Linked DNA regions of Homo sapiens: regions 1 and 3 are each linked to region 2. Evidence: fine-mapped expression QTL. Tissue or cell type: whole blood. Region 2 holds a variant in brackets; each other region holds the start of a gene. Each region is shown on its reference strand, or each on the opposite one. Region 1 holds the start of ODAD4 (outer dynein arm docking complex subunit 4). Region 2 overlaps LOC105373411 (a long non-coding RNA gene). Region 3 holds the start of SLC6A9 (solute carrier family 6 member 9).

What was found. PIP is the estimated chance that this variant, and not a neighbour inherited with it, causes the effect.
Region 1: ODAD4 starts here. The variant in region 2 is fine-mapped to the expression of ODAD4 in whole blood (TOPMed, PIP above 0.99).
Region 3: it holds the start of SLC6A9, and the variant in region 2 is fine-mapped to the expression of SLC6A9 in whole blood (TOPMed, PIP above 0.99).

What each region holds. Positions count from the first base shown.
Region 1 is chr17:41,926,759-41,934,934 of GRCh38, forward strand. ODAD4 (outer dynein arm docking complex subunit 4) reads left to right here and starts at 3,859. Exons shown (of 12, transcript NM_031421.5): 1 at 3,859-4,079. The coding sequence starts at 3,966. It also overlaps a transcript of ACLY not described here. RefSeq lists enhancers at 2,982-3,885, 3,598-3,687, 3,868-3,967.
Region 2 is chr2:8,612,792-8,620,967 of GRCh38, forward strand. All of the region lies in intron 1 of LOC105373411 (a long non-coding RNA gene), which reads right to left. Among named protein-coding and RNA genes, the nearest start is that of LINC01814, 33 kb to the left of the region's middle. The variant C/T (reference allele first, on the strand shown) is at 3,262.
Region 3 is chr1:44,027,887-44,036,062 of GRCh38, forward strand. SLC6A9 (solute carrier family 6 member 9) reads right to left here and starts at 3,576. Exons shown (of 14, transcript NM_001024845.3): 1 at 3,420-3,576. LOC107984948 (a long non-coding RNA gene) reads left to right here and starts at 2,528. Exons shown (of 2, transcript XR_007066054.1): 1 at 2,528-2,663. It overlaps LOC124904168 (a long non-coding RNA gene), which reads right to left and starts at 7,888. Exons shown (of 4, transcript XR_007066055.1): 1 at 7,797-7,888; 2 at 7,369-7,539; 3 at 5,759-6,434; 4 at 4,657-4,841. RefSeq lists enhancers at 951-1,510, 1,511-2,068, 2,710-3,306, 6,825-8,176, 8,163-8,176 and silencers at 2,178-2,727, 3,048-3,117.

The sequences.
Region 1 (8,176 bases), not on the chromosome of region 2:
GATTATAGGCATAAGCCACCACGCCAGGCCTTATTGTGTTTTTAAAACAGCTTTCTTAATATATAATTAATGTACAATAAACTGCACATAAAGTGTACAATTTGATGAGGTTTTTGGTCTTTTTTTTGAGATGGAGTTTCACTGTTGTTGCCCAGGCTGGAGTGCAATGGCACGATCTTGGCTCATCACAACCTCCGCCTCCCAGGTTCACGTGATTCTCCTGCCTCAGCCTCCCGAGTAACTGGGATTCCAGGCATGTGCCATCACGCCCAGCTAATTTTGTATTTTTAGTAGAGACAGGGTTTCTCCATGTTGGTCAGGCTGGTCTTGAACTCCCGAACTCAGGTGATCCACCCACCTCAGCCTCCCAAAGTACTAGGATTACAGGCTTGAGCCACCATGTCTGGCCAATTTGATGAGTTTTAATACATGTATATACCTGTGAAACAATTACCACAATCAAGATAATGAACATATTCCTCACCTCCATGAGTTTCCCTGTACTCCTTTGTAATCTACCCCTCACTTCCCTACTGCCATGTTCCCAGGCAGTTAGTCTGCATTTTCTAGAATTGTATTTTATTTGAGATGTGATGTCACTATGTTGCTCAGGCTGGAGTGCAGTGGCCTGATCATAGCTCAACCGTGTTAGCCAGGATGGTCTTGATCTGCCCGCCTGGGCCTCCCAAAGTGCTGGGATTACAGGTGTGAGCTACCACACCCGGCCACATTTAAATATTTCTAGTTAATTTTTGTATATGGTATGAGGTAAGGATCAAGGTTTAGACTAGGCGCAGTGGCTCATGCCTGTAATCACAGCACTTTGGGAGGCTAAGGTGGGTGGATTACCTGAGGTCAGAAGTTCGAGATTAGCCTGGCTAACACAGTGAAACCCTGTCTCTACCAAAAATATGAAAATTAGCCGGGCATGGTGGTGCACACCTGTAGTCCCTGCTACTTGGGAGGCGGAGGCAGAAGAATCACTTGAACCTGGGAGGCAGAGGTGGCAGTGAGCTGAGATCACGCCACTGCACTCCAGCCTGGGTGACAGAGTGAGACTCCATCTCAAAAAAAAAAAAACTCAATATTTATATTTAGACAGGCATGGTGGCTCACATCTGTAAGCCTGGCACTTTGAGAGGCCGCGGTGGGAGGATTGCTTGAGTTCAGGAGTTCAAAACCAGCCTGGGCAACATGGCAAAACCCTGTCTCTACCAAAACAACACAAAAATCAGCTGGGTGTGGTGGTGCGTGTCTGTAGTCCCAGCTACTCAGGAGGCTGAGGTGGGAGGGTGGCCTGAGCCCAGAAAGCAGAGGTTGCAGTGAGTCAAGATCTCACTACTGCACTCCAGCCTGGTGGACAAGGCCAACTCTCTCTCAAAAAATAAAAATAAAAATTAATTAAATACATATTTACATTAAAATATTTCCAGTTGATTTTTGTATATAGTGTGAGGTAAGGATCAAGGTTTTTTATTTTGGATTTTGTCTTTCCATATGGCTATCCAATTGCTTCAGCACACATTTGTGGAAAAGAGTATCCTTTCTCCATTGAATCTCTTTGGCAACTTCATTGAACATCAATTGATCATATATGTGTGGATCTATTTCTGTTCCATTAATCCATATATATTTACATATTTATGCTAATACCATTACCGTAGCTTTAAAATAAGTCTTGAAATCACAGAATTTAAGTTCTCTTTTGTTCTTCTTTTTCAAAATGGTTTTGGCTATTTTAGGTCTTTTGCATTTCCACATAAATCTTAAAATCAGCTTGTTAATTACTGAAAAAAAAAAAAGGCTGCTGGGGCCAGGCACAGTGGCTCATGCCTGTAATCCCAGCACTTTGAGAGGCTGAGGCGGGCAGATCACCTGAGGTCAGGAGTTCAAGACCAGCCTGGCCAACATGGTGAAACCTCATCTCTACTAAAAATACAAAAAATTAGCTGGGCATGGTGGTGTGCACCTGTAATCCCAGCTACTCAGGAGGCTAAGGCAGGAGACTAGCTTGAAACCGGGAGGCGGAGATTGCAGTGAGCCGAGATCACATCACTGCACTCCAGCCTGAGTGACAGAGTGAGACTCCACCATAAAAAAAAAAAAAAAAAAGCTGCTGGAGTTCTGATTGGAACTGCACTGAATCTGTAGATCTCTTCCTTGCAGGAGGTTTTTTTCTGATTAATCCTGGTTGCTCCAGCAACAGTCCTCAACTCATCAATGAGCCCACCTTAACTTAGAACAGGACCAGTTTCACTGCAGGTCCTTAAACCTGTTGCTGCTCCTTAAACACCCTGTGAATGTACACACCTCCAGCCTTTGCACATGTTATTTCCTTTTTTTTTTTTTTTTTTGAGACAGGGTCTTGCTTTGTTACACAGGCTACAATGCAGTGGCCCAAACATGGCTCACTGCAGCCTCGACCTCCCACGCTCAAGTGATCCTCCTGCCTCAGCTTCCTGAGTAGCTGGGACTACAGGCACACGCCACCACACCCAGCTCACTTTTGTATTTGTGGTAGAGACAGGGCTTCGCCATGTTGCCCAGACTGGTCTCGAACTCCTGAGCTCAAGCGATCCTCCCACCTCAGTCTCCAAAGTACTGGGATTACAGGCATGAGCCACCACACCTAGCTCTCATTCTCTACTTACGTCTACTGGGCTCCACCATACTCACCCTCAGCTCAAATATTACCCCTCTATGAACATGTCTCTAACCCATCCCAGACCCTGGCTGAATCATTCATTTGCCTGGGTTTCACACCACTTTGTCCTCATCTCCCTCACAGGCACACAGAACTTTTAATTACTAGTTAATATCACTTAAGTGGCCGTTACTTGTTTATACATCTTTCTCCCCTATTAGATAAAACTCCTTCAAGCAGGGACCATATTATTTCTTATATTTTGAATTAAACCTTTTGAGATAATCATAGATTCATATGCAGTTCATAAGAAATAAATACAAAAGAGATCCCATGTACCCTTTTCCCAGTTTCTCCCAATGGTAACATCCTTAAAAACTTTAGTACAATAACACAACCAGAAAATTGACACTGATACAATCCACTGATCTTACTCAAATATCCCCAGTTTTACATGTATGCCGTGTGTGTGTGTGTGTGTGTGCATTTGTAGTTAAAGACATCTTTTTACTATTTAAACTTTAACAATGACATTAGGACGTTTTGGAAGTAACGTAGTAAAGGCAGTTAAGCAAGCTACTTAGGGTATCGTTGGAGCCCAGAAGAAGCACCTAGTCCACTTTTGGAGGAGTGGTGATGGTGAGGGAATGGGGAAGGACGTCAGAATATGCCTTGGTCAAGGCCCGCTACTAGTAGCTGCTCAAATAACTGCGTTAAATTATGTTGAACCCAACGTTATTTTCCATGTTTTCTTATGCAAATCCTCGCATCCCTGAGTGTTCCATTATTTTCATATTTATTTGGCAGGTGGAACATTCGAGGCTGGGAGCCCTTACATGCCCCGCGAGAGGTCACGCAGTTAGGAAGTGACAGGAGCGAAGTCAGCCCAAGTCTGCTGACTCCAAGCCCAGTGCTCTCTCCCCCTAATGGCGGTACGCCGTGCACATATCCTTACCACGTATGCCTCATCCCTATTCGGAACTTTGCCTCCAACCCTCTTCCTGTTTTCTTGGCTGTCTTACAAGGGAGCCTTTTCAGGCAGCAACTCCAGAGAGAACCGCCAGAGCGTGCAACAGCAAACACTAACCAGCCCAGCCGTCAGCCACGCAATCATCACTCCCTGGCCCAGTGCGCGGCAGAACTGGCGCAAGCGCACGCCGGCAGGTTGTACCCAGAATCCGGGCCCTTGCCAGACGGGGGCGGAACCGGAAGTCGCTGTACATCTCATGGTTGCTAAGAAACGGAGCTTCCACAAACCAGATAGAGGTTCTCCAGCTTTTCTTTGATTGTCTCTGCTTTAGCGTCTCTAAATCCGGTCACCATGTCGGACCCCGAAGGCGAGACCTTGCGAAGCACCTTTCCCTCTTATATGGCCGAAGGCGAGCGGCTCTACCTGTGCGGGGAATTTTCTAAAGCCGCGCAGAGCTTCAGCAACGTGAGTCGAGCTCTCAACCTATCCATCACCCCATCACCCGTCACTTTTTTTTTTTTTTTTTTTTTTTTTTTTTGTGACGGAGTTTCGCTCTTGTTGCCTAGGCTGGAGTGCAATGGCACGATCTCGGCTCGCCGCAACCTCCGCCTCCCGGGTTCAAGTGATTCTCCTGCCTCCACCTCCCAAGTAGCTGGGACTACAGGCGCGTGCCACCATGCCCGGCTAATTATTTTGTCTTTTTAGTAGAGATGGGGGTTTCACTGTGTTGGCCAGGCTGGTCTCGAACTCCTGACCTCGTGATCCACCCGCTTCGGCCTCCCAAAGTGCTGGGATTACAGGCGTGAGCCACTGCGCCTGCCCCCTGCCCTCACCTTTTGATTGCAGATAACACTGAGGTCTTGATGATGCCTGGAGGACCCTGTTGTTTCTATTATTCACTGATTTTTGATGGACACACTGCTGTCACAGATAAGCCCTGTGGTTGGCCATTTTCTACCAGTTCCCACTTGCAATCTCCATTCTCTGCGTTAACAGTGACCTTTTCCTCCACTTTTACTTAAATGTTTCATGATTAACCGGCCTCCTTCCACAGAGCAGCCTTACCTTCCCATCATTTGCTGGCAGATTGGATGGGAGGTTGCATGCAGAAGCCTCAATGTCCCCAGCACACCGTTGCTTATAAAAGGTGGCCAGTAAGCAACATATGATTATTATTATCAATTTTGAGACAAAGTTTTGCTATGTTGCCCAGGCTGGAGTGCAGTGGCAAGATCTCAGCTCACTGCAACTTCCGCCTCCCCAGGTTCAAGCGATTTTCCTGCCTCAGCCTAGGGAGTAGTTGGGATTACAGGCATGTCCCACCACGCCTGGCTAATTTTTGTATTCTTAGTAGAGACAGGGTTTCACCATGTTGGCCAGGCTGGTGTCGAACTCCTGACCTCAAGTGATACACCTGCCTCGGCCCCCCAAAGTGCTGGGATTACTGAGGTGAGCTGCTGCACCAACCAGCAACATTATTATAGTAACCCTAGTATAAATTGCATCATCCCACCCTAAGGGGATTGGGTGATGGTTTTTGTTGTTGTTGTTGTTGTTGTTGTTGTTGTTTTGGAGACGTAGTCTTGCTCTGTCTCCAGGCTGGAGTGCAATGGTGCGATCTTGGCTCACTGCAACCTCCACCTCCTGGATTCAAGTGATTCTCCTGCCTCAGCCTCAGGCACACTGCTAAGCAGACTGGATTTTTGTTGTTGTTAAGATGGAGTTTTGCTCTTCTTGCCCAGGCTGGAGTGCAGTGGCGCAATCTCGGCTCACCCCAACCTCCACCTCCCAGGTTCAAGCGATTCTCCTGCCTCAGCCTCCCGAGTAGCTGGGATCCCAGGCATGCACCACCATGCTCGGCTAATTTTGTATTTTTAGTAGAGACGGGGTTTCTCCATGTTGGTCAGGTTGATCTCGAACTCCCCACCTCAGGTGATCCCCCCCCACCTCAGCCTCCCAAAGTGCTGGGATTACAGGCGTGAACCACCCCACCCAGTGCATACTCAATTTTATAGATTAGGAAATATACAGAAGTTGAGCAACATGCCCAAGGTCGCTAAACTAGCAAGTGGCAGAGGAAGGATTCAAAGCCGGGCTCAGACTCCAATGCTGAGGTGCTAACCACAAAACTACACATCTGACATCTGCATAAGGAAACTGTTGTTTTTTTTTTGTTTGTTTGTTTTTTCAGAGACAGGATCTCGTTCTGTCTCCCAAGCTGGAATGTGGTGGCACAATCACAGCTCAATACAGCTTCAAACTCCTGAGCTCAAGTGATCCTCCCACCTTAGTGTTCCAAGTAGCTGGAGCTACAGGCTTATGCCACCACGCCTGGCTAATTTTTTCTTTTCTTCTTTTTTTTTTTTTTTTTTGTAGAGATAGGTGTTTTGCTATGTTGCCCTGGCTGGTATTGAACACTTGAGCTCAAGTAATACTCCCGCTTTGGCCTCACAAAGTGCTAGGATTACAGGTATGAGATACAGTGCCCTAAAAACATGTTTTTATGACCATTTCTTTTGCTCCAAATTGCCCACTTCTTCTGCTCCAAATTGCCCACTTCTTCTTCTAGATGGAGTGATAGGATAACCCTGTAGTTTTGAGACTTCCTGTAAGATCAAGCTTCTCAACAGCTCCCCAGAGTCGTTTGTCCCTTTCAGTCACCAACCACACCCTAAAACCAGAAATGATGACCAGATAAGTGAACAATTGAGTTCGGTAGCCCTGTCCCCACTTATTCTCCTCCTGCTGGATCATGTCCCATCCTGAAGTACCCACCAGCAGAGAAAAAAGAACACCCTGAGGGAAGGGTAGCCTTGGATGAGAAGCAGTCACTTTCCAGAAAGACAGTAGCTACTTCCTCTTCTTAGAAAAGTAGGAAGGTCTTAGAAAGGGGTGGGTACCAGGAGACAGAGGGTTGCAGTGAGCCAAGATCATGCCATTGCACTCTAGCCTGGGCAACAAGAGTGAAACTCTGTCTCAAAAAAAAAAAAAAAAAAGACCAGGTCAGGTGGCTCATGCCTGTAATCCCAGCACTTTGGGAGGCCAAGGCAGGTGGATCACCTGAGGTCAGGTGTTTGAGACCAGCCTGGCTAACATGGTGAAACCCTGTTTCTACTAAAAATACAAAAAATCAACCGGACGTGGTGGCGAGTGCCTGTAATCCCAGCTACTCCGGAGGCTGAGGCAGGAGAATTGCTTGAACCCGGGAGGCGGAGGTTGCAGTGAGCCGAGATCGTGCCATTGCACTCCAGCTTTGGCAACAAGAGCAAAACGCCATCTCAAAAAAAAAAAATTAGCCAGGTGTGGTGGCGGGCACCCGTAGTCCCAGGTACTCGGGAGGCTGAAGCAGGAGAATTGCTTCAACCCGGGACTCGGAGATTGCAGTGAGCAGAGATCGTGCCACTGCACTCCAGCCTGGGTGACAGTGTGAGACTCTGTCTCAAAAAAGAAAAAGGGGGGTGGGTACAGTTAGATGCCTCAGGAAGGACAGTACACCACAGACTATGGTAATCATCTCACACAGAAAAGAGGACACTGGGAGTGGGGATATTGCCCTCAACCCCACTTTAGGGTCAAAATCAGTTTCATTTTCCTAGCATTTTCTTTTTTTTTTTTCTTTCTTGTTTTTCATTTTTCTTTTCCCTTTCTTTCTTTTTTCTTTCTTTCTTTTTTTTTTTTTTTTTTTTTGAGACAGCGTCTCACTCCATCACCCAGGCTGGAGTGCAGTGGCATGATCTCAGTTCACTGCAACCTCTGCCTCCCAGGTTCAAGCGATTTTCTTGCCTTAGACTCCCGAGTAGCTGGGATTACAGGTGCTTACCACCATGTCTGGCTAATTTTTGTATTTTTAGTAGAAATGGGTTTCACCACGTTGGCCAGGCTGGTCTCAAACTCCTGACTTCAAGTGACCCACCCACCTTGGTCTCCCAAAGTTCTGGGATTACAGGTGTGAGCCACTGCACCCGGCCTCTTTTTGTTTTGTTTTGTTTTGTTTTTTGAGACAGAGTCTCATTCTGTCACCCAGGCTGGAGTGCAGTGGTGTGATCATGGCTTATGCAGCCTCGACCTCTCCAGGTTCAAGCAATCCTCCCATCTCAGCCTCCTGAGTAGCTGGGACTACAATCATGGACCACCACGCCCAGCTAATTTTTTTGTATTTCGTAGAGACAGGGTTTTGCCATGTTGCCCAGGCTGGTCTCAAACTCTTGGGCTCAAGCGTTCCGCCCACCTCGACCTGCCAAAGTGCTGGGATTACAGGTGTGAGCCACCACTCCCAGCCTTTTCCTGGTATTTTCATCTTAATCCCCGGATATAGTGATTAGTTCTTGATTAGCTACATAAAAAGAGAAGGCTACTGGAATGGTTAAGCCACATGGCAGATTGTCCTCAAGTCCACTTCAGAATGCTTAGCCTTTGAAATTTGCTTTGAGTATGATGTGTTGCCATTTCAGGTTTGTAGTTGAGTTTGGTGTGCACAAAATACCCTACAGTTCTATTGCCTGAGGGGACTGAGGGGCTCTCAGACATTGGTGGAAAGTCAGCGTATCCACAGAGCAGCATAT
Region 2 (8,176 bases):
AGAAGCCAGACTTCTGTTGTTGGAGCCCCCAGTCTGCGGCCCTTTGTCAGGGCAGCCCTGAGCAGCAACACTGTCCCCCTCTGCGTCTCCATGTCACGGCAACCACGTGGGGAACAGGGATTTTGAAGGACATCATTTCTGCACACTTACTTAAAGAGATGCTGGCAAAGCCCTTTTCATGAGTAGACACAGTATGGGAGAGTCCCTTTGATGTTGTTTGTATTGCGCAGATAGTGATAGAAGGTCATGGCAATCATTTTCCTGTGTGATCAGTAAGCTGTCTCTGCAACCACCTCCCAAAGAAGCCATTCAGAATAGTTGAGGCAGGGATGAGATCTCTGGAGTAACTGTGTCCGAGGCATGGTGCTCCCTTCCAGGGATAAGATCAAGTTACTTTGTTTGAAAAAATCTAATGAGAGTCTCATGGATTTATTTTCTTGCTTCCTGAACTGAACTGAGAAGGAAACCATAGGGAGGATTTTTTGTTTGTTTTTTGAGACAAAGTTTTGCTCTTGTCACCCAGGCTAGAGTGCAGTGGCGCAATTTCAGCTCACTGCAACCTCTGCCTCCTTGGTTCAAGCAATTCTCCTGCCTCAGCCTCCCAGGTAGCTGGGATTACAGGTGTGCACCACCACCCCCAGCTAATTTTTTTGTATTTTTAGTAGAGATGGGGTTTCGCCATGTTGGCCAGGCTGGTCTCCAACTCTTGACCTCAGGTGATCCACCTACCTCAGCCTCCCAAAGTGTTGGGATTACAGGCGTGAGCCACCGTGCCCGGCCCATAGGGGGAATTTCTAATGGAAGCATGGATGGAAGTAGGCAGAGGACAGAGTAAAAGAAAGCTTTAAAATGGAACTTGCTCATGTGTGTTCAACTGCCTGTGAGTGTCCATGCACTCTGGACCAGCATTCTGGGTTGCAGAGACGGAGATGAAGGTGCCATGTGGCTGAGGGCTGTGGGTCATAGGCCCTGTAGCACAGTAGTCACACATGTGGACTTGGAGCCAACCTGCCTCCACCACTTGGCTGTGTGAGCTTGGGCAAGTTCCTTGACATCTCTGTGCCTTGGTTCCCCATGATGTTACATGGAAGCCCTAGCAGTGCCTCTCACAGGGTGATGTTAAGGCTCCAGTGAGTAAAGCATGTGGTGCTCTCGGCACAATGGAGGCCGCACAGTAAGGCTTTACCCTTCTGGCTTGTGGGTGAAGTCAGACCCTCTGAAAAGCAATAACTAACAATGCCAAGAGTATCCTAATGAGGGCACATGAAGGGCTTTGGAAACCCCGCATGGGGAGCCCGAGACTTGGCCTACAGTGGGTGGGCACAGATGAACCCTAGGGGGGCCTGGGGAGCTGACTCCGGAACACAGATCCGAGCCTGTTCTGGAAGGGACAACCCCTGTTGGCAAAGAGGGGACAAGGGGAGCCTTGTGAAATACTGCCTGTTTGGGGAAATGTGGGGAGTTTGTTGTAGCTGGGGAGAAGGCTGTGTTGGGGAGGGTGGTAAGAAATGTGACTGGAGAGGTTGAGAGGGTCCAGCCACAACTTTATCCCAAGAGCAAGGGGTTTAGCAGGAGGTGGTGTGGTCAGATCCGCAGCTTAGAATGACTGGCTGCTCCTGCTGCTGGGAGGAAGCTAGATTGGAAGGACAGAGGCTGTAAGCAAGGAGACTCGTAAGTCCAACAGGAGATGATCAGGGCCCTAACGGCAGTACTGCAGAGGCACCACATCCCTTCCCCTCCCTGAGCACGCGGGGAGGAGACCGTCTCCCGGAGTGCATTTCCCAGCCTCCTTTGCAGTGAGCTGAGGGGCCGCAGGACTGAGTTCTGACTAATAGAATGGGGCAGAAACGATGTAACCCATTTCAGGCTTGGCCCTTAACATCTTGCAGGACCCTCTCATCTGCTCTTACTTTCTGCAGCAAATTCAGAAGTACTGGTTCCAGATGGCAGAGCTACAGCTCGAATTAGACGAGATCCCAGAGTGGTGACCTAGAGGTGAGTTGCCAGAAGACCAGCCCGGCCATCCAGACACTGTGTTCAGCCACTGAGATTGCAGGGATATTTGTTACAGCAGCATGACCTAGCCCACCTGACTACGCCAGGAGGACTTGGGGCACTTGGAGAATGAGCAGGACTGGGGGAGAGAAAGGAGTCTAGGGGTGACTTCCTGGATGACCAGGTGAATGGTGGCACCATTAACTGTGGCAGGAGATGCTGGGTGCTAAGTCAGTACTTCTATCTTAGACAAGTGTGTTTGATGAGCTTAGGCAACAAGCAGGAACCCCCTGCAATACGTGCATGAAGCAGCATCAGGGAAAAGGCTAGAGCTGTGGACTTGGGTTTGTTGGCCTCCAGGTGGTCGCTGATGTCTTGTGGAAGGAAAGAGAGTGTCTGGGAGTGCCTTGGAGTGTGCAGGGCAAAGGACACTAATGCACAAGGAAAAGAAAAGGAGAAGGAGCCGGTGAAGGAGCCAGAAAGAGTCTGCTATTCGGGAAGGGGAAGAATGAGGAGAGGGTGATCAATGCCAAGATGCTGATCAACAGGCAAGTCTGATGCAGACCAAATGCACGCCCTGGATGTGGCACACAGTAGGCCCTGGAGGGGCATACAGAGCCAAGCCGGGTCAGGGGATGGAGGGCGGGCACCAATACCATGGTCTGAGACATAAAAGGTGCAGTGGGTGTCCCCGGGAGAAGCCCAGCCCAGAAGGGAAGGAGGGAGGTAAGGGAGATGCTGAGTTGAGAGATGCTCATGCCAAACAGAGAGAGATGGCAGAAAAGCGCAGCAGAGGGGAGGTTGGAGAAGATATAGCAGAGAGAGGTGGCACTTGGTGCAGAGACATCTAACCCCAAGGAGCAAAGGGCATGGTGAGAGATGGAGAAGAAAACCTCCAACTGCCAAGACCTTCCCAGAGCAACGTTCCCCCGACCCCACCCCAGAGGCTTCCAATTCCCTAAGATGGCAGCCAACTAGGGCTGCCGCAGCCTCTCCAGTGTGCCAGCCTGCTGGTGTCAGAAACCATTCAGCCCCATGGCCCAGGGACCAGAGGTTTGTGCCCTCTGCACGTGGCCCTGGTGCAAGGCCCTTGGCTGGGCACCGAAGAAGATAACAAAGTGTTTATGACAGTCGCAACCCTTCAGGAGCTAAAGCAGTCCAGGAGCAAGATAAGGCAAGTTCAGAAATAACTCATCTGCAGCAGACAGATAACTGGTAAGTGCCAGGGAGAGGAGCAGATAATGTGTGAGGGAGTTCACAGGGAGA[C/T]TCCCTCCTGCTGGAAGAGATCAAGAAAGAAACACTGACGCAGGGCCTGGGGACCCAGGCCTAACCTTTGCATGCCAGTGTCTCTGCCGGGTTCTGGAGTAAATTGTCTCTCCTTCTTCTCGCCGGGGCTCCCTTCTCCATCCCATCAGCTCCAGCTCCTGCTCCCACCGTGGTCAGTGAGCTCGCGCTAGATGAGCATCCTGTTCCTCCGATCACCAGCAGCATCAGAAATCTGATGCATGAACAAGAGCAAAGTCACAGGGCTCCATAGACACCTCCTGGGATTGGGGCACAGACGGAACTTGAGCAGGACTTTAAAAATGAGCAAGTGTTAACAGCTCATGGCAGTCGGCAAGACTGGCTACAACCACAGCACCTGCTCTGACAAATACAGACCATCCTCCTTTATCAAGTCCTCCCTGTTGGATAACGAAAAATCCAACAGGTAAAGTTTGCTTCTCAGATCTTCTGAATAGTCATTGAATTCAGGCCATAAAATAATGTCAAACGCTTAAAAAAGGGAAGGGAATGAGGCATCTTGCGTACTGCACAGAGCAAACTGAAAACCCAGATTTATTTCCATAATGTGAATTTTTAAATATGATACTGAAATGGGCACAAAAGTCAATAACTTTATTAAAATGATTTTGCATTTCTTAACTTGATCTTTTCTGACACTACCCTTTGGAGTCACAGATGAGAAAAGCAAGACACATGACATGTGGTTCTACCTAAGGCAGCAAAGTGAATAGTGGAAAGACAAGCTTGTTCCAGAAACAGCATGGCGGGGAAGGGTGTCTGTCGTTCTAGATCTTTCCAGCTGACTCTGGGGAAAGGATGCAGGGAGAAGAAAAGCTCCTTCCAGGGACTGCCATTTTTCTGTGTGTACATGAGCTTCCGAGGGACGGTGGTCACCTCCAAGGTGAAATTTGTGAGCCACACACTCAAAAAAGGTTGGCGGGCCCGGAGGGGAGTCCAAAGGGAAGCCCCTACACACACAGACATGGAGATGTGCTTGCCTTAGGTCATGAGGATGCCAGAGCGGCTTCCTATGATTATTCAAGCCTGATGGAATTTCACAACTGGTGCGAGATGAGCGCAAGGTGTTTAGACACCTTGCAAGAGCTGGAATGCCAGGAGGGGCGGCCGGGGGGCGGTCTCCTCCAAAATTCAAACCCCCAAACAAGTCCGACTTTCTGCAGACAGCTCCTTCGCCATTCAGTAGGGACCTCTCCCCCAACACGGGACCAGCCCCTGAACTTGAAAATCCTACTTGGCTTCCCTCACCCCAAACACATCGGAGTCGCAAGCCCCACCAGGCCCGTTTCCAAGCCCCCACTCCTGTGTCTCCAGGAACCACTTGCCTTGTCTTGCCTTGCCTCAGAAGCATCATTTGGAAGCAGAAGCCTGTGGCTTCATTTCTTTTTATTTTAGAGCTGATCTGCTAGAAAAAGGTATTTTGCGAGGCGCAACGGAGGTAGAATGTCTCGTCAGCTAGCCACTTCACAGACATATGGCCTGCTATCCCACCAGTTAGGAAGTGATTATTGGAGCTGCACAAACAGATTTTTTTGTCAAAGTGGAGGTGTGATTTTCTCAGGTTCTGTGAGAACACACACACATATTTTTACCAACCCAATCTGTTTTCCAGCAGCCGGGTGGCCGCAGGGCCTGGACACCCGCTTGGTGTTTAGGAGTCATGAAGGGTGCCTGGCGAGGTCCCTGGAGGCTGCAAACCTACCTGGCAGGAGCCAAAGACCCCAGGTTCATTCTGTGACCACGAACAGAGCCTCTGCCTGCCCTTACCTGTGACAAGAGGGATGGCCACGAAAGCTGCCTCCTTGCACACAGAACCAAGCACCAGCGTTCACCCTACTATGCATCTGAGAGCCGGGACTTTTTTTTAAACTCACCACTGCTAGTTTAGTTCTAAAATCTCTTTGAAATAAAAATTAAGACACACAAGAGATACTAGGGTAAAGATGGCAGATGAAACACGTTCCTTTACTTCCATTCTCTCTCTAAATCCATCAAAGACAAACATTTTGTTTTGTTTTATTTTACAGTGTAGCTTTGTGCTATGGAATGTGGTAGCCCCTAGCTACACGGGCTACATTTACCTTTTTATTAAATCAATTCTAAACTTCAGCTTCCAGATCACACTAGCCACATCTCAAGCACTCAGCAGCCTCACAGGGTTAGTGGCTGATATACTGAACAGCATAGAAAAAGAATGTTTCCATCAGCATCACAGAAAATCCTATTGAACAGCACTGGGACGGAACCTCCAGGAGCAAAATCTCGGGAGAACACACTGGTAAAATGCCGGAGGCTGGGAAGGGAAGAGTGCGTGGGGGCTGGCTGAGCACGCAGGATACAGCTGAGCCCTACACCAGGATTGGGGGGAGCCAAGAAGCCAACTCACCCTTCGCACTCAAGGAGGCCTGAGCAGGGGCAGCGGAGGAAGCTCACGTGCCCTCACTCATAAAGAGAAAATTCTACACTAAGGTCATAGACTTTATTTAAAGGTTAAAAAAAAAATCCTTCTATTCTCTGCTTTGACAAATATACCTTCTTGGTGATGTAAAAGGCCCATGTGTTAGTTTCCTAGGGTGCCATGACAAAGTACACACACTGGGCGGCTTAGGACCACAGACGTTTATTCTCTCACTTCTGGAAACTAGAAGTCCAAGATGAAGGCGTCTGCAGGGCTGGTTCCTTCAGAAGGCTGGGAGGAATCTGTTCCTGGACTGTCTCTTAGTGTCTGATGATGACCGGCACTCGCTGGCGCTCCCTGGCCTGGAGATACATTTCTGCCTCCATCTTCCTATGGCTGTCCTATAAGGATACCCATCATCTTAGACTAGGACCCACCCGACTCCAGTATGACTTTATCTTAACTAATTATACCTCCAATGAACCTATTTCCAAATAAGGTCATGTCCTGAGAAACTGGAGGTTAGGACTGCAATGGATCTTTTTGAGGGGACACAATTCAACCCTTAACTGCAGGTTCAAATGGATAGTCCTCCTTGGACTTCTCAGTTCGGCACCAAAACACAGCAACATGGGAAGATCCCTGATCGTGGCCCATTCCCCTTCCTTCCCAGCCCAGCTCCATCCTGCACCTGAGGGAGCTTGCATGGCTCCATCCAAACCTCCCACAACCCCTTGCCCCCAGCCACTCCTCAGCCTAGGTGGCTCACACTGGCAGCATGGTCCACTCTGGAAGGAGGGCTCTGGAAAGAGCCCCCCCGCCCCGGGGCCCAGGGAGCAGGGTTGGGATCCTTTGGACAGGGAATTCCAAGGCCTCCTTTCCCTGGAGAATGTTCTAGAAGGAGGAATGAGGTGCGCACTCTGAGTGGGCATGTCCTCTTGGCCCCTGAGAAGGGGCACAGCTAGAAGAGGGAACATACACTCTCTGAGGCCGTGGCCCAGGTCTAAGGGCATTCCTGCCAAGAAGCAGCCAGGTTTACCAGCGGAACCCAAAGAGGGCTCAGGATTTGGGGGTGTCCACAACTTCTGAAAATGAGAAGGAACCTGCTCACAAAGTAGTGAGGTGCACAAATCCCCTTTCCGACACCAGCAAAAAACTGAAGGCTTATTCTCTGGAGAGGAGACCAGGTCTCTAGTTGGGGAGATCCCAGGCACAGCTGAAGGTCAAGGCACCACACAGAAGTAGCAGATTAAGGGAAGGTTTGTATATGGAATATTGACCTGCGATAGCCCTGCTCCAGCCCTCTTCTCTCTCTCGGCCTTCAGAACGTCTAGGTTGTCACTTCCAAGAGAGGATTAAAGGGCTTTTTTGAGCTCAAGCCAGTGCAAGAGGAAAAATCTAAAGATGCCGATATTGGTAGTTCCCCAGGAAAATAGTCCAACCAGATTCTTTTACAAGGAAGTCCACAATCAACAATCTTAATCACACATTTAGTGCTTCCAATCAACTTTTCATGCCCCACTCTTAAATATAAACCAGTGACTGAGGGTCTCAGCTGAAGAAAGCCCCTGACATGAGAGAGCGTGACCAAAACAAAGAGAAGAAGGTAACTTGGAGGAAACAGAGATTATGCATAGAGAAGAGAGAGTATAAAACAGGAAGCTATTATCAGTATCCTCAGATAGACAATCAGAGATGGCATCCAGGCACAAACACGTTTGTTTGTTTGTTTGTTTGTTTGTTTTTTAAAGAATATTTAGAGAACAGAAAGAATAGTTGTAAGCTTAAAATGCCGTGTTATAAATGTAAAGTTCATTCGAAAAATTAGAAGACAAAACAGAGGAAATAGAGAAAATAGAGCAAAAAAATGTAAAATTAGTTCAAGGGGTTCAACATATGAAGACAGAGTTCCAGAGAGAGAGAGAGAAACCAAGGAAAAGGTGGGAAAGGAAAGCATCATGACATAGTTTAGGAAATTTCAGAGAACTGAAAGACATTAATTTCTAGCCCGAAGGACCCAATGAGCACCCGCCCATATGACAGATGAAAAGATACCCAGCCTAAGCCACCCGCATAACATTTACAAACACTGAGGACAAAAGACAATCTTACAAGCTGACAGGGAGATACAAATAGGTCTTCTACAAAGGATCATGAATCAGAATAATTTTGATTCTCAAGACAAATCCTGGATGCTAGACTACAATGCAGCAAAAATCCAGGGGAAAATGATTTCCAACCCTGAATGCTGTACCAAACCCATTATCAACTAAGTGTGAGGGTACAATGGAGATGATGTCAGACATTCAAGGTGTCCAAATATTTGCCTCCCACGTCACAGGAATGATCAGGAAATTTGCTCCACCCAAATAAGAGAAAACCATGAAAACCAAGCCCTGTGTCCCTTGACTTTCTACTTACCAGTGAAATGCGGGTCTGAAGGATTTAAAATGTTGGGTTTTATCTTTTTTATTTGTG
Region 3 (8,176 bases), not on the chromosome of region 2:
ATCACTTGAATCCAGGAGGCAGAGGTTGCAGTGAGCCGAGGTCACGCCATTGCACCCCAGCCTGGGCAAAAAGAGTGAAACTCTTATCTCAAAAAATAAAAAATAAAGAACTGCCTACTGAGATAAAGGGTGTAAAAGACAAAGATTGTGTTATGAGACTCTACAATAGGGGGGCCTGGCCTTGTGTAAGACTAGGGGAGGGCTTCCCTGATGAAGTGATGTTTAAGGGTCTAAAGAAGTTAATTAGGCAAAGTGGCAATAATGAGGAAGAGAAGAGGAAGAGAGAGTCAAGCAAATGGAACAATATGTGGAAAGGCTCTGAGGCTGGAGCTCAGACAGTCAGGGGGAAATGGTCAAAGATTAAAGTGGACAGAGAGGCCTGGCCAGGGCCTTTGGGGTCTGGATTTTGGTCTTCATCTTGAGGGCAAGGGTGCCTATTGAAAGCTTTTAAGCAGAAGATCAACTTCAAGGAGGAGCCATTGGTGGAATGTGCATCTTGAAACCATCCCCCTAGATACAGTGTGGAGAAAGGACTGGAGGGAGGCTGAAGTTGAAGAGAGGAAGTCAATTAGAAATGGGCCAGGCCAGGCTGGGCGCGGTGGCTCACACCTGTAATCCCAGCACTTTGGGAGGCCGAGGTGGGTGGATCACCTGAGGTCAGGAGTCCGAGACCAGCCTGACCGACATGGAGAAACCCTGTCTCTACTAAAAATACGAAATTAGCTGGGCGTGGTGGCAGGCACCTGTAATCCCAGCTGCTCAGGAGGCTGAGTCATGAGAATTGCTTGAACTTGGGAGACAGAGGTTGCAGTGAGTCAAGATTGTGCCATTGCACTATTGCCTGGGCAACAAGAGCAAAACTCCGTCAAAAGAAAAAGAAAAAGAAAAAAGAAAGAGAGAGAGAGAAAGAAAGAAAGGAAGGAAGGAAAGAAGGAAGGAAGGAAGGAAGGAGCCAGGCCAAAAATGAAGGGGCTCAGGTTAGGAAGGTGACAATAGGGTGAGGAGAGGTGCACAGATTTCAGAGAAATATAAAAGGCAACATGGCGAGACTTGGTGATGAATCGGACTGGGTAGGGGGAGGGATAAGAAGGAGTCTCTGGTTTCTGCTGGTGCAGTGGGAGGAAACCGGTGCCCGACCCAGAGGACGAATGCTGGTGAGGCTGCAGGTTTGGTGCGGGGACAGGAGGGCTGGCTTGGACAAGCTGGTCTGAGCTGCTTGTGAGCCAGATGTTGAGACATCAGCCACAGAACCCTGGCCCACCTTGACAGTCTCACCGCTGAGTATCAGACAGGACTGTCAGGTCAATCAGTTTTAACGGTCCATCTTGGCCAAGCCCTGGAGTCCTCACGGGGGATGGAAAGGTGACAGGCTCTTTTCCTAGCTTGAAGGACCGCACAGTTTAGTAGACAGAGGAAGAAGCATAATTTCCATTCACTGTGTTGGAGGAAGTGGAGGAGCTGTGGGAGCAGGAAACAGCCCTTAGTTCTACCTGGGAGCCCAGGTCAGCAGCCTGCGGCCATCTGCCGCCACGTGAGACTACCCAGCACTTGCAGAGGGCTCCTGCTTCATGCCTTTGCCCCGGCACCCGTTCCATGTTTTTTGAGCACCCTTGTCTCCACTTCCACCTGTATGTATCCTACCCATCCTCAAAACCTATCCCAATGCTATTATCTTCATGAAGCCTTCCTAGGTCCTCCCCGTTGCTGTCAGCCTTCCTACTGTACCCCCACGCTTGCCACACGTAGCAATTGAGGCATGCTTCCTTGTGCCCAAGTCTGGCTCCCCACTAGATGGAGAGTTCTACCAGGGCAGAGGCGTGATTCTTCTGTGTCCCCAGAGCCGGGAACTGAGCAGGTACAGCCGCAGTCGCCGCATAGGCCAAGTAAAGGGGGCGTTTTCTCTGCGGTCCTTGGAAACACTTGGGCATGCTCAGTGTCGCCCATTAGTCCCTAGAACCAGTCCCCTCACCCACTACTCTCCAACCTTCTGATGCTCCCTCACTTTGGCAGTCTTTAACCTTTCAGGTTTTTCTCTTTCCCCACTCCTCGCCCTGCAGCCTTTATTTCCCAACGGCCGCACCCTCACGCTCCTTTCAGCGGAGAAATAGACCGCGCTTTGTGCGGAAGCTGTCAGCGAGCAAGCGTCCCGTCTCCTTTAAGAGTGATCCGCGAGGGGGTGTGGCTTGCGGAGAGCAGGCCCGAAAGGGGGTGCGGCTCCTTTAAGTATCCGCCGGCCCGAGGCGCGGAGGCCTCCGGCCGGCGGGCAGGGGCGCGGTCGGTCTGGGAGCAGCGGCACCGCCCGCAGCGTCCCGGTTCCTCGAAGTGGGGCGCGTCCGCTTTAATCGGGGAGAGAGATGTGGGGGCACGGGCGTTACATCAGCCGCCACGTGTGGGCCTAAGCTGGCGTGGAGGCGGCGGCCCCGCCCCCGGCCCCTGCGGTGGAAAAGTACCGGGGCGCCGAGGTCCCCGCCCCACGGCCCCGCCCCCGGGCCGGCACCGGCCCCTCCCGGCCCTCCGGGCAAGCCCCACTCTCCCGCCCGGCCCGGCCCCGCCGCCTGCTCGAGATCTGCAGTGGCTGCCGGGTGCGGAGCGCCGGCCGGGGGTGGGCTCTCCAGGGCTGCTAGGCCCCTGCCCTCACCTGCGGCCGCCCGGCCCCGCCCTAGGTGTGCCGGTAATGAGGGTTGGGGTGGGGAGGGCACGGATTCTTCCCAGGGTAGCAACCCCCAGAGAACTCCCGGCTCGCTCGCAGTCCCTTCCCAAAGCCGCGGCCAGAGCGCGGACAAAGAGAGGCTGAGTGCGCCAGGACTCTCCCGCGCGGCTTCCCGGGTCCCGCGGGCGCACGGGCACTGGAACCGGCACCGGGAGGGCAGATAGGGAGGCAGGCCGGCTGGAGGGGCCAGATAGGCAGCCAGGCTGGCGGGCGCTGAGAGGCGATGGAGCGAGCGGGAGCCCGCACGCTGGGTGCAGGCACGGCCGACTGTCGACCCCTGCAGGCCCCCAGAGCGCAGAACCACTGGCTCCTCGGACGGACAGTGCCACGCTCTGGCTCCGGCGCTACCCGCACAGCCTGCGCCCGCCGCCCCCGATCGAACCGGCGTCTGGCGCCCCCCCGCCACCCCACGCAGGAGCTCCCCCCACTTCCCTCTCCCTCCCGCTTCAGCTCCTTGGTGACAGCGGTGACACCCAGACGCGCGCACCTACCCCGATCTTTGCGGCGAGACAGACATCCCGGTGCGTGCACCCACACTCTTACCCACAGATGCCCGCATACATGCGCGATCACACACACACACACACACACACACACACACGCACACGCTGGTCCTGGGGCTCAGCCCCGCGGAGCCGCCGAACACTCAGACCGACGGCAGGACAGACGGAGGCGCGGGCCCCAGCGTCCCTTCCCCCAGCCCCCTTACCATGCTGCAGCCCCCGGCCCAGGCGTGCTGGGTCCGCACCGCGGTGCGCCCAGGTGGCTTTCTTAAAGGGAAAGTTGCATCAGCCTCCCGAGGCTCTGTGCCGCGCCGAGTTCGCCCGCCCCGCCGCGCCGCTCGCAGCTCTTCCACAGCCTGTTGTGTTTTGGTTTCGGGGAGGCGGGGGCTAAGAGTTTGGTGAAAGTTTGAAGAGTGGAGAAGGCTTGGGAGATCTAGCCAAGTCCCTCCCCTACCCGAACGGCTCCCCTGGCCGTCCTCCCCTCTCCATCCCATCCCCTCCTCCCGTGCCGACTTCTCAGGCTCCTCCTCCCAGGGAATAAAATTACAAGTCTCTCCAGCTTTCAGATGATTGATCCCCACGAACCCCTGGGAGTGAGCGCCACAAAGGAGTCCCCTTCTCCGCCCCTGCCTCGCTGCCCTCCAGCTGGGGCCCTTGAGCAAGCAGATGTGGGCCCCTTCGGGCTAGGCTGGAATGAAGCCAGAAGGCCTGGGGCACTATGGGGGGCTGAGGCTGGAGTTAGCCCTCCAGGCCCCTGGCCTTCTGCGCCTGCGTTTCCCCTAGAGAGAAGTCAGAGCAAATTCCATTCCCTTTGGAGCAGAGCCGCTAGAGACTGTGGGCATTGCTGGGTAAGGCCTAGGTCCTACTCCTTGGAACTGGAGGGCTCGGGGTAGCCCTTTCTCAAATTTCCCTCCTGGACCACCGGCTTGGTCAGCTCTACTTTTGAGGTGGTGTTACAGGGGCTGCAGACACCAACCTGGGATCCCTCCTCCTTCCATGGTGAGACAGACCTGGGTTACAATCTCAGCTAAAAAAGAGTCTTTGCCAAAAGGAGCATGGTGAGCCTCGGTTTCCTCCTCTGTGAAACAGAGAGAAGGGGCTAAGGAAATGCATGTGTGTGTATATAAAGCCCATTGCTCCAGGCTGCCTCTGGGGAGTGGTGGCTGGCATTTGGAATGAGCCTCCCACATTTGCATACCTTGTGAGAGCCACCACCTTTCATGGAGAGTGGCCAGTTAGTTCTGTCAGAGGAACTGGTTTTTGCCCCAACCTGAGTAGGGCATCTGCTCAGGGAAGGGGCCCAGCCCACAGAGGCAATTTCTACTTTGGACCCTGAGTCCTCACCATTTTCTGGCCAGGAAACAGTTTAATTTTTTTCCTTGGGACAGTCAGCCTCCAAGAAGCGAGTGCACACATGCCAAACTCACGTGAAACCAATTGTTGAGTGAGATTCCAGTTTATTAATTTATCAGAGGCACTGAACAAGATAACAGGCATCAAGCCCAGGCATTCCCTGAAATGCGAGCTCTCTCAGGCCACACGCGGTCCATTCCACAAACCTTCCTCAGAGCCAAAGTACAAAGACAGCTCTCTGTTGTCTCCTATTCACATTGGACTCCTGATCAGATCTGGGAAGACACCTTAGTCTTATCAGCGAGATTATTTTCACTTTTACTTTGTCCCCAAACCTAGTAGGTATAGCATGTTTGGGATTTTTAGTCTCCTACAAGCCAAGTGCAGGTGTTTCTTGCGTGAGTTGTGTGCACACACACCTGGATCTAGGCAACCTGTTGTGTCTGTGCCCCCAGACACCTGAGCCCCGATTGTGTATTTGTGTAGGTACATCTGTGGAAGACTGATTGTGTGCACTGCAGCAGGTCTGTGTAGTTATGTGTGTGCTCAATTCCTGGGACTGGGCAGATGGGGTCCAAGCCCTCTATATCTCTCCTGCCAGGACGTAACTTCCTCCATAAGTTTTTTTTAGGATCTTCCTCCTTGCCTCCTCGCTGGGGCTCATCAAAAGGGATACCACCCCAGGGAAGGCAGATGGAGGATGTCGAAGAGGCCCCCAAGTAGAGGAAGGCGGACAAGGAAGAGTATGAAGGGGAAAAGGCCTCCCTCCTTCTCCCTTCCAGCAGTAGGCTGGGGTGGGGACAGGCCTAGAAGAGGGCACTGAGCGCTAAGAACACTCAGTGAAGATTCCGAGAGTTTTCATGGCTCAGGGAATCCATATGAAGGGAGGCAGGTGTAGGGTGCTGCAAGCCAGACTTCCAGGATGCCCTCAGGCCTAGGGGCTTGGGGCCTGGGCTGTTAGAAGAGAGGAGGATGGGTGCTCAGGGGCCAGCCCTCTGAGGCTCCGTCAGAAAGAGGAAGGCTTGGGGACTAACCTAGGGACAGGGACGTGGGGTGAAGAGAAAATTTTCCTTGGAGTGTTTAGGGAGATTGGGGATGTTGGCCAGAGGGCTTTATTAGACTAACACTGGCATAGCTCAAAGTCTATTTGTATACATAGAAACAGATTCATGGATATGTGTGTTTTACCCACCTTGAACCAGAAAGAGCTTCAGGAAACCACACAGCTGTGTCCTGAGGAGACACTTGTGAGAAAGATTCTGGTTTGAAAAGTCATCTTCCTGAGACAGGGACTAGAGAGGCTGTTTTTTTCCAATCAGAATGAGGCCCAAAGGAGGCAGGTTTGGGCCCAGCCCGGGTGGGAGCTGGGATAGCCTCCGTCCCTGGCTGTGAGCCCCTGGCTCTGAGCAGCTGGCCTGCAGGGTGGGAAGGGCATGGCCAGCCTGGGCCACTGTGGGGCGGGCAGGGGGATCAGGACTGAGGACAGACTGGGGCAGGGGAGGGGATGGGGGACGGACGGGGTCAGACATTTTGACGGGCCTGCTTCTTCCTGGGGCAGGGCAGCAGTTGGGCTGGGGCCCACCCACCACCCACTGCAGGCTGAAATGTGGCTCAGGAGCCTCCAGTTACTGCAGCCAGTGGAGCTATTTCCTGGGAGGGCTGCATCCAGCGTCAGAGCCCCCAGGGCTGGCTGGTTTCCTCGAGTGGTGTCATCAGCCTGCAGGATCAAGGCCTCTGTTTCGAGATGCACATAGTCAGCTTAGGTGTGTGTCTAGTAGGAATATGAATAATGCCAGACTTGGGCCACTTCTGGTGGTCACTGCAGGAGCTGGCAGCACTGGGCACCTTGATGGAGTGGTGCTGGGGGCCTGCTGAGAAGGTGGGGGAGGGTGGACATTGCCTGTAGTTGAAGCCAGGCCTGGCCAGGGGTCTCCACCTCCTTAGAACCCCAGCCTCAGTAGCCAGGAAGCATTACTGGGAGGTGCCTGCCTGGGCTCTGCTCTCAGATTCTTCCTTTCTTGAACCTGGAGCCCAGTGGTCAGTGCCTGGCACCTCCACTGCCCTGTCCCAATGCAGAGGAGCAGGTTAGATTGGTTTCAGACCTGAGAGCTGTCTCTGGGGCTCCAGGTACCCCTTAGGCCATCCTGTTGTGGTTTCTCTACCCCTGAAACCCCGCCACCCCAGCCCTGCCACCCCAGCCTTGGGGCAGCATAAGCCAATCATGGGGTTCAGAACAGGGGTTCCGGGCTGGACCTCAGTGGCTCCAGGTAAAATCAGGCATATAGACAGGAAGTATTGACTTTGGCGTTGTCCAAGGGGCAGCCCCAATCTCCAGAGCTTTCAACACCCAGACTCCTCAATCGCTTTGAGCTCCCAAAGTCCTGAATTCCCAATGTCAAGGGTGCCAGAGCACCCAACACTGTAGAGGACCCAAAACCCAGAGCCCCCAGTGCCAAATTCCAGGGGGCCTGGGGTACCCAACATCCAGAGCACCCAATGTTCATAACATTCCATTTTCAGAGTGCCAGTGTTCCAATTCACTGCACCTGGAGGGAGGGAGTGGGGTCCCTGCATAACCAGGGTCCCTACATAACCGAGGTCCCTTCAGTGACCTATTATCTGAGGAGTGGCCATGACTGAAGTTGGGGCTGGGGTGGTGCTGGCAGTTGTAGTTCTTCCTCGATGCTCCCATCCTGGGTCTGGAGAGGTCGAGCAGGCTTGCAGGTGGGATGGCGTTCCCTCTGGCCTCAGCCCAGCCTGGTCACAGGCCCTGTGGCACTGAATGTCCATTTATTCACTCACCAAATATTAGTGCGCATCTGCCATGTGCTGGGAATTGAGCTCCTCTCTGGGAGTACAACCGTGAGAGAGAAGGGGTTCCTGTTCTCCCAGATGGGACAGGTGACATTGTGCCTGTGCTGGTATGTCCGTGTGGTTCAGCCATCTGTGGCCCACGTGTAGCTGTGGGCATGGCTATGAGAATGAATGGCTGTGAGTGTGATGGTGTTGGCGTGAGGCTGTGCCTGCAGCCCACATCAGCAAGTTAATGTGTGTGACTATTATGGTGGGTCTGGCTGTGTCCGTCTGTCTGGCCATCCTAATAATCTCTCTTTGCCTCACTGCTATTTCAAGGATTGGAAGTAAGGCCCCCCTTCCCCTCAGACCCGAGGTACTGAGGGTCAGGCCTCACTGTAGGGAGGAACAGGCTGGTTCCTGAGCTAGAGACTGACCCCAGAGCTGCCCTGCTGCAGGGCTAAAGATTTCTCCTACTGCTCCTGCCCCTGCTGGACCCAGAGCCTCTTTGGATTGGGAAGACAGGAAGAGGGGTGGCTATAAGCCGAGCAGTCGACACCAAAAATAGCCATCTGCCCTGGGGAGGATCCTCTGGCACCACTCTCTCCTCCAGTCCAGCCCAACCCGGCCCACTGACTTGGAGCCTCAGTAGGGCTCCTGTCTGACTCCACTTCCCCAACTCTTATCTGAGTAACCCTCTCAGACTCAAAGGAGGGACACAGCAATGATGTCACTACAAATTATGGCATCATAAAGAGCTCTGGCAGCATCACAAGGAGTGACCCCAGACCGCGGGCGGGGCTCCATCTGCTGGTAG